Homo sapiens: one gene and its partner. The protein of the gene in region 1 interacts with the protein of each later gene in a biochemical or structural test. Each region holds a gene or a part of one and is shown on either strand. Other genes may lie near its edges.

Region 1 (3,064 bases):
TGTCCTGTGAGTCTCGTTAAAGGCCCCTGAGGTTGCAGAGGCCCCATCAGCTGCTCCTGAGCCACACCGAAGTCTGTACCAGGGGCTGAGGTGCCCTCTCCCCAACGAGGGGAGCGTTGGGGCAGGGAAAGGGGAAGCTAGAAGCAGCTAGAGAGCGGTGCCTGTGCTGGATCCCTGGGCCCCTGGAGGGTTCCTCACCGGGCTGCCGGGTTATGTTTGCGGTGTTTGCACAGCTGAAGACGCAGCTGGAGTGGACAGAAGCCATCCTGGAGGATGAGCAGACACAGCGGCAGAAGCTCACGGCCGAGTTTGAGGAGGTCAGGCCCTGCCTGGTGGCTCTCAGCCCCCATCAGCCCCTGGGCCCTGAGTCTCCAGGGAATGAGTGGGTCAGCCCTGCCCCGCTCGGCTGTGCCCAGCAGCACCTGGGCTGGGCCTGGGCCTTCTGGGCAGCAGTGGGTGGGGCCCGGGCAGGTGGAGCACAGGCTGGAGGCACCTTGGGAGCCCTGTGGGTGGTCTGCATCCCTGAGGAGCCTTGAGGGCCTGGGGCTGGGTCAGAACTTGTGGGTCTGGCCCACTCATTCCAGCTACAGGATGGAGCTGTTGCTCCATCAGGCTGGGGGGGCCCCCTGGTCCCCAGGCGTGCTCGGTAGGGTCTTGACAGCACAGCCGTTTATAAGACGTCTCACCCAGACCTCACTTCCCTCTCCGGCAAGGCTCAGACCTCGGCATGTCGGTTACAAGAAGAATTGGAGAAGCTCCGCACAGCCGGCCCCCTAGAGTCTTCAGAAACAGAGGAGGCCTCACAGCTGAAGGCAGGCAGGGGCTGGGGCGGGGGTCACACCTGGAGGGTCTGCTCTGGGGCTGGCGCCACTCTTGGCCTCGGAAAGGGGCCAGGAAGGGGAGAGCCGACCCCACCGGGACCTGCCCTTGGCACTGGTTCCCCTTGTCACTACCCGGGGCTGGGGTGGGGACTCCTAGCCCTGCAGTGTCACATGGTCACATGGCAGCCATTAGTCCTGGTGGCTGTCGAAATGTGAAGCATGTAGAACGTGAAGTGCGTTCCTCAGCCACACGTCCAGCGCTCAGTAGTCAGGTGTGTCTCCTGTGCTGCCTTGGACAGTGCGGAGTAAACTGCTCCTGCCCCAGGAAGTTCTGGTGGTGCTGAGAGCACAGGACCCAGCCCTCACGGTCAGCATGGGCGGTTTCCTCCCTGTCGTCACCACCTATCTCCGGGTGACCAGGAGTTGCCTTCCTTGTGTCCCCAGAGGGCTCCAGCCCCTGGCGTCAGGGTCCTGTGGGCATAGCTGGGGTGGCCCTCCTGCCGGTGCAAGGGCTGATGCCCGTCAACCTTCTGACCATCAGGAGAGACTAGAAAAAGAGAAGAAGTTAACAAGTGACCTGGGGCGCGCCGCCACGAGACTGCAGGAGCTTCTGAAGACGACCCAGGAGCAGCTGGCAAGGGAGAAGGACACGGTGAAGAAGCTGCAGGAACAGCTGGAAAAGGCAGTGCGTGCCTGGCGCCAAAGCAGGGCGGGAGGAGTCGAGCTGCCGGGAGCCCCGGGGAGGCAGGACCGGGAGAGGCAGAGCTGGGCGGAGTCGTCAAGCTGCTGGGAGCGCTGGGCTGGGAGCCCCAGGGGAGGCAGAGCTGGGCGGAGGTAGTGGGGACAGAGACTTCCTAACGAGGGCTTCAGCCCACCCGGCCCACCACCCACCCTTCTGGGGTTCCCTTGCTGGGAAGCGAGTGTCTGATCCCCCTGCTGGCCCAGGTCCTCACTTTGCACCTGTGTGGGCCCCTTAGCCAGTGCTCCAGCCCCTGCCCTGCAGGATGATGGTTTCCCCTCAGCTCCCACCAAGTCCTCCCTGTCCCCCAGCCCCAGGGGTCTGTGGCTCCTGTTCTCTGAGGGACTGGAGTGGCTTGAGGGGGTCAATCCAGGGAGGGACTAAAGGCCCAGGGTAGAGGGCAGGTGGTTCTGCCATGGCTCGTGGCCCAGCCCCCCTCACGCCACCTGCCTTCGTTCACAGGAGGACGGCAGCAGCTCAAAGGAGGGCACCTCTGTCTGAGTTTCCTCTTTGGAAAAAGAAGTTACTGTTCAACTTACCAAAATGCCTTACACATTCCTTACAAATAAACCAACCAACCTACACAGCGTTATCCAGGCCCAACTTCCGGTAGCTCCGAGAGAAGCCATGAGAGACAAGTCTCTTAGAGCCACAGAAGTAGACCTTCCAGAGCCCCAGTTTGTAAATGAACCTGTGTCACATTTGATAAACACTATCCTGGGCGCAGCCCCGGGCCACCGCCGAGTGACGCCAAAGCCCTGGTTGACTCTGACAGCCCCGTGGGTGTGTGGGAGGCCGGGCGCTCTGGGGTCTGTCTGTCAGTGCAATCGTTTAGTGTTTTTTCAGTGGGGCGGGGCGGGAAGCGGGTGGGACCGGGCAGCCAGTTCTCAAAGGCTGTGGGGCCGACTGGAGGCCACAGCCCCTCACCCCTAGACGTTGCCAACCAGAACTGACGTGTGACCTCCTGGGTGTTGATGCCATTAAAACCAACGTTGGTGCCCGGTGCTGCGGTCTCGTCTGGTCTTCTGCTGGGGCTCCCCCACCCGCTGTTGGGCCCAAGATGAAGAACCAAGGGGTGGGGGCGCACTCGGGAAGAGAGTAAGCGTGGGCCTCAGCTGCTTTGAAGGCAGAGGCTCTGCAGCTCCGCGTAGCGTGGGGTGGGGCTGAGACTCGCTGCTTCCGGGGCCCCCAGCAGTTTTCCTTGTCACCTCCCAGACCTCAGTGCCCTCCGGGCAGGATAAGGGAGCAGGGCCTGCGACACCTGAGAGCCAGATACATTTACTGCTGCCCCGCATCCCGGAGGGGCTGAGGTTTGTGAGCGCGGCTGGTGGCCCGGGCTGTTGCGTGATGGAGGTCCGGGAATGAACAAGGGGTCTCTGTCCTGGCTGGGGCTTAGACACCCACACCCCAGGAGGGTGGGCCAGGGCTGGAGCAGCCCACTGCCTGCCCTCGGGAGGTGGAGTTTCACCTGCAGAAACCAGCTTAGGTTTGCCACGACCCTCAG
Region 2 (4,203 bases), on another chromosome or scaffold:
AGGCGGTTGTGGTGTTGGGTGCCAGCGAGAGATAGGGGATATTCTCTCCACATGCAGCAATGAGTGTTTCTTTCCTGCTTATATCTTATTCCCTCCTTTCTCAGAATCTGGCAGTGGCTCCCAATTGCCTCTCAAGTCAATTGAAACCTTCTCTTTGTGGGCCTCAAAACCCTCCACAATTACATCTCACCTTCTGACACCCTCACTCCCACACACACATCACCCATAACTCTGGCCTAGGCACAGACAGTAGAGTAGACAGATGAGGTTGTCCACAAACTGCTCCTGCCTGAGTCCTGCCACAGGTGCCTGAAAGCCCCACCAACAGAGTCACTCCTCTGTGTCCTTTAAAAATGCAAATGTTACCTGTGAGGTGTAAGCAGTAAACCTCTATCAGCTATTAACACCTTGGCCTGGCAGGGATTCTGTCATCAAATTTGCCCGAGCAGTGAGCAAAGCCCCGCCTAAATAATCTAAGGGGGCGGGGGAGAGGACCCAGAGGAGCCCTGAGCAGCCGACGGGAGGGGCAGGAGCAGGGAAGGGGCTCTGACGTAGAAGCCATCGCCGTCACGATTTTACCACGGTCTACATTCTAACTCCGCATCTCTACTTAAAACAGTAAAACCCACTAGTCCTTGCTCCCCTCAACCTTGTTTCCCCCATCCACAATACATTATGCCTTATTTAACCTCAGGGGTGCCTTCATGACAAGCTGCTAAGGTTGAATTAGTCCTTTCACATGAAATACAAAAACAAACAAACAAAAAAACAAGCCATGAAATTGGGTAGACGCTGGCATGTTTGCTTGGGCACGGCCAAGTCTTGTTGAGGTCTCCCCGGGTAGAGCAAGATCTCTTTGCTCAGCGGAAACAGCAAAGGCTTCCCGAAAAGCCTCTCTTAGCTCCCAAGAAGCTGGCAGCTGGGTTCCCCCTGCTTCTCCTGCAGTGAGCTTCATGGGCAAGGAAGGCGAGGGAGGGGCAGGGCCTCCAAGCTGAGGGCCTCTGTGGCTGAACTGGCACACTATCCCGGGTCCTCTAGGCCCAGGTGGAGTTCGCCATTTACCCCGGTCTCCAGCTGGGAAAACTCACTTGGTGCTTCGCTCTGAGTCAGCATAGAATCCCCCACCCTCCACTTCGAGAAGGGCGCCCCCAAGGGAGCCTTGCGCTTATAGCAGTTCCTCCGAAGGCAGGAGTCCAGAGACTGCCCCGCCCTCCGTAAGAGCTGCAGGATGCTAAGACCACCCGGTGGACTCCAGGGTTTTGCACCTGGACCAAGATGCCAAGGGGAGGGGCAGGTCTAGCAGAATTCGGCGTTTGCTGTCATCTGGGGCTCTTTAGTTGCAGCTGCAAGGGTGGAGGTGCCACCTGCTTCTGGGGGAAGGTGTCAAACATTTGCCCCTGCAGTGGTTTCAGTGTGTGTGTATGGGGCTGTGGTGTGTGTGTGCAGGAAACCCAACAGCTCGAGCGTGGAGGGTATGACTACCAGAGTTGGGCACGCTTTTTGCCAGAATGGGGTTCTTAAGGGCTCTGGTGGAGGTGTCTACAGTAGCTGCGTGTGACGGGGGGTTGCTGGGTGTGTATTGGGGGGAAGCAGCAGGTACTGGATCTGCAGTAATGTGCAGTTGTCATGTAGTTTCTCAAGACCACTCTGAGAAAACACACACACACTCACATACACACACACACTCTCCAACCTCCAAAGCACTAGGCTGGGGAGTAGAGGAGTGTGTTTGTGTGTGCATGTTTTAGCAGCGCTAGGGGGAGGTGCATGTATCTGTATATGTGTTTGAGCTTTATTAGCATCTTGGTGGGAGGGGGCAAGTGTAGCTCGCGCTCTCTCTCTCTCTCTCTGTGTGTGTGTGTGTGTGTGTGTGTGTGTGTGTGTGTGTGGTCTTTGCATGGGGCTGACTGTGTGGCTGAGCGCCGGGTATGTTGTGCGGCTGTGTGTGCGTGTGTGTGCGCCTCCGTGTCCGCTTGTGAACATGGCCCCGGGAACCACGCACATGCTTCAGACAGCTGTTTCTGGCAGCCCCTGGGCTCGGGCTTCGCCGGGCACCCCGGCTAAGTGGCCACCTCCTAGCAGCCAGGCCCCGCGTCTCGCCAGCTCTCCCAACTGTGCCCACAGCCCAGGCGCGCACACAAAGGCTCCATAATGAACGCGCTGCACTCCCCTGCGCTCGACTCCTCACCCCGCACCCGCGGAGGCCAAACGAGCCCGCCAAGCCAGAGACTCGCCGGGGCAGTGGGCACGCAACGGGCCGTTACCCCGCCCGCCCAAACTCCGGGCGGCCAGACGTTCGGCGCCCCCCGCCCTGCCCCCGGCTCCCGGGGGCGCCCAAGCGCCAGTCGCCCCCCAGCCGGCCCGGGGCGGAACGCTCCCGCCGCGACCCACCCCCGGTTGGGCTGAGACAGCGGGCGCGCCCCCCTGAAGGCAGCGCGCCTCTTACCTTCCTCCCCCTCCTCTTCCTCCTCCTCTTCCTCCTCCTCCTCCTCCTCCTCCGCCTCCTCAGCGGCGCGGCAGCGGCGGCGCAGCGGCGGCGGCGGCGGCGGCGGCAGCGGGACTAGGGCACCCGTGCCCCCGAGCCCGGCATGGGCTTGGGGCTCAGTGGCGCCGGGCGGCGGGGCGGGCAGAGGTTGGCAGGGCGGCAGCAGCTGGCCCGGGACGCGGGGAGCTGGCGCGCAGGCGGCGGGCTGCGGGCAGGATGGCAGGAGCGCGCGCGGGCTCCTCGGGCGGGCTTCATGGCTGCGCCGCGGGCGGCACCATCGCCGTGGCTCGCTCGTCGCTCTCTCGCTCCAGGAGTGCGGCAGGCTGCGAGGTGACGGATGGCGGCGAGGCGGCCGGACGGCCGAGGAGGGGAGGGGAGAAGGGGCGGGGGGAGGGGGAGGGGGAGGAAAGAGGGGAGTGCAGAATGAGGGGCCTCTCCGGCGCCTCCCGACCCTCGAGTGCTGGCGTCGATTTCCCCGAATGGGAAAGCGGCTTAAAGGCGCAGTTCCTGGCTCGGGTCACTACTAAAAATAAGCAAAAAATTGACAATTGGGGAAAGAATCTCCCAAGAACAACCCAGCAACCCAGCCACCCAGCCTGGCGCTGCCTCACTTCTTGAATCTGACCGTTACGGCCGGACTCTGCCGGGAACTGCTGGCTGCCGAGAGGGCAAGCCAATTTCCAAAGTGAACCCGGGAAAGGGGGGCGGGGAGTGAACTGCGGAGAAGGGGCAGCAGGAACGCTTGCTTCGGAGACTCCGTTCCCTGGCCCCTGACCTTGCTTCTCGCCCCTTGTTTGCTCGCCTTCTGCTGGGGATGCCCTCCCTGCAGCTCCCCTCCTGGTCACCATCGCAAACATCCACACGCACCTTGAGTTTCGGCTCGGGCTCCTGCTCTCAGCGCCTCTCCCCAGCACTGGAGTGTGAGCGGCTTCGAGCCCAGGCCCAACGCCAGGAGCCCACCTCAGTAAGGGAGCGATCTGCCAGCTGGCAAAGGTCTGCTTAGAAAATGCGATTGGTTTGGTGAAAAGGGAAAAAGGTTAAGGTGTGTGTGCATGTGTGTTCACCAGCAGATGGAGGGAGGGTCCTGGCCACACACACACACCCGGAAGGAGAGCAGCTAGGCACACAGCACAGTGCCTGATGAATGATCTCAGGACGTTTTTTAGAGACATGCTGTGAATACTAAACATGCAGCAGCCGAGATTCAAGAGAAGCTCTTGGTCTCCCAGCGGGCTCCAGACCCCTTCAGAGGAGTTTTGAGGGCCAAGAAAAAAGGCCACTCTTCCTTCCCCAAAAAGGGCAGCCTCAGTGGGGACCCAGAGAGACTGGGAAGCTGGACAGTGGGTCTGGGTGGTGAAGTTAAGGCCAGGGAAGAGAGAAGCAGGAGGAAGCAGTGGAGTTGAGGAGCTCCTGGTGATGCCAAATACATGGTGAATTTCCGGGTGTCAGAAGCACCTCGGAGAGACAGTTAAACATTGGCACATTTGGGCCTTGTGAGTTCTAAGGTGAAAAGTCAGCCCTCCTCGATTTCCTCTGTGTTCCTGAACTCTAAAGGAGGCTGTTGGCACAAAGGGATCCATTCTAGTTGGAATATTTCCTCACTTTCGGTTCTTTTCAAGCACTTGGTTAAAGCTTCAGAAGAGGCCGGAGGGCTACTGAGGGGCAATTGTGGGACAAGGGCTGTTCTCCTAGGCTGCACGGAATTTCCAGGATACAGA

Evidence for each region. The genes of interacting proteins can lie anywhere in the genome.
Region 2: the proteins of RRBP1 (region 1) and FRMPD3 interact in a test that uses a peptide from one of them, tested with the Homo sapiens proteins (one large-scale study listed by IntAct).

The regions. Positions count from the first base shown.
Region 1 is NC_000020.11:17,613,179-17,616,242, reverse strand, and holds the end of RRBP1 (ribosome-binding protein 1), read left to right. Parts: intron 1-233; coding exon 234-317; intron 318-713; coding exon 714-812; intron 813-1,362; coding exon 1,363-1,506; intron 1,507-2,022; coding exon 2,023-2,061; 3' UTR 2,062-2,564; downstream 2,565-3,064. UniProt on the Homo sapiens protein: Acts as a ribosome receptor and mediates interaction between the ribosome and the endoplasmic reticulum membrane.
Region 2 is NC_000023.11:107,448,249-107,452,451, reverse strand, and holds the start of FRMPD3 (FERM and PDZ domain-containing protein 3), read right to left. Parts: upstream 2,801-4,203; 5' UTR 2,447-2,800; intron 1-2,446.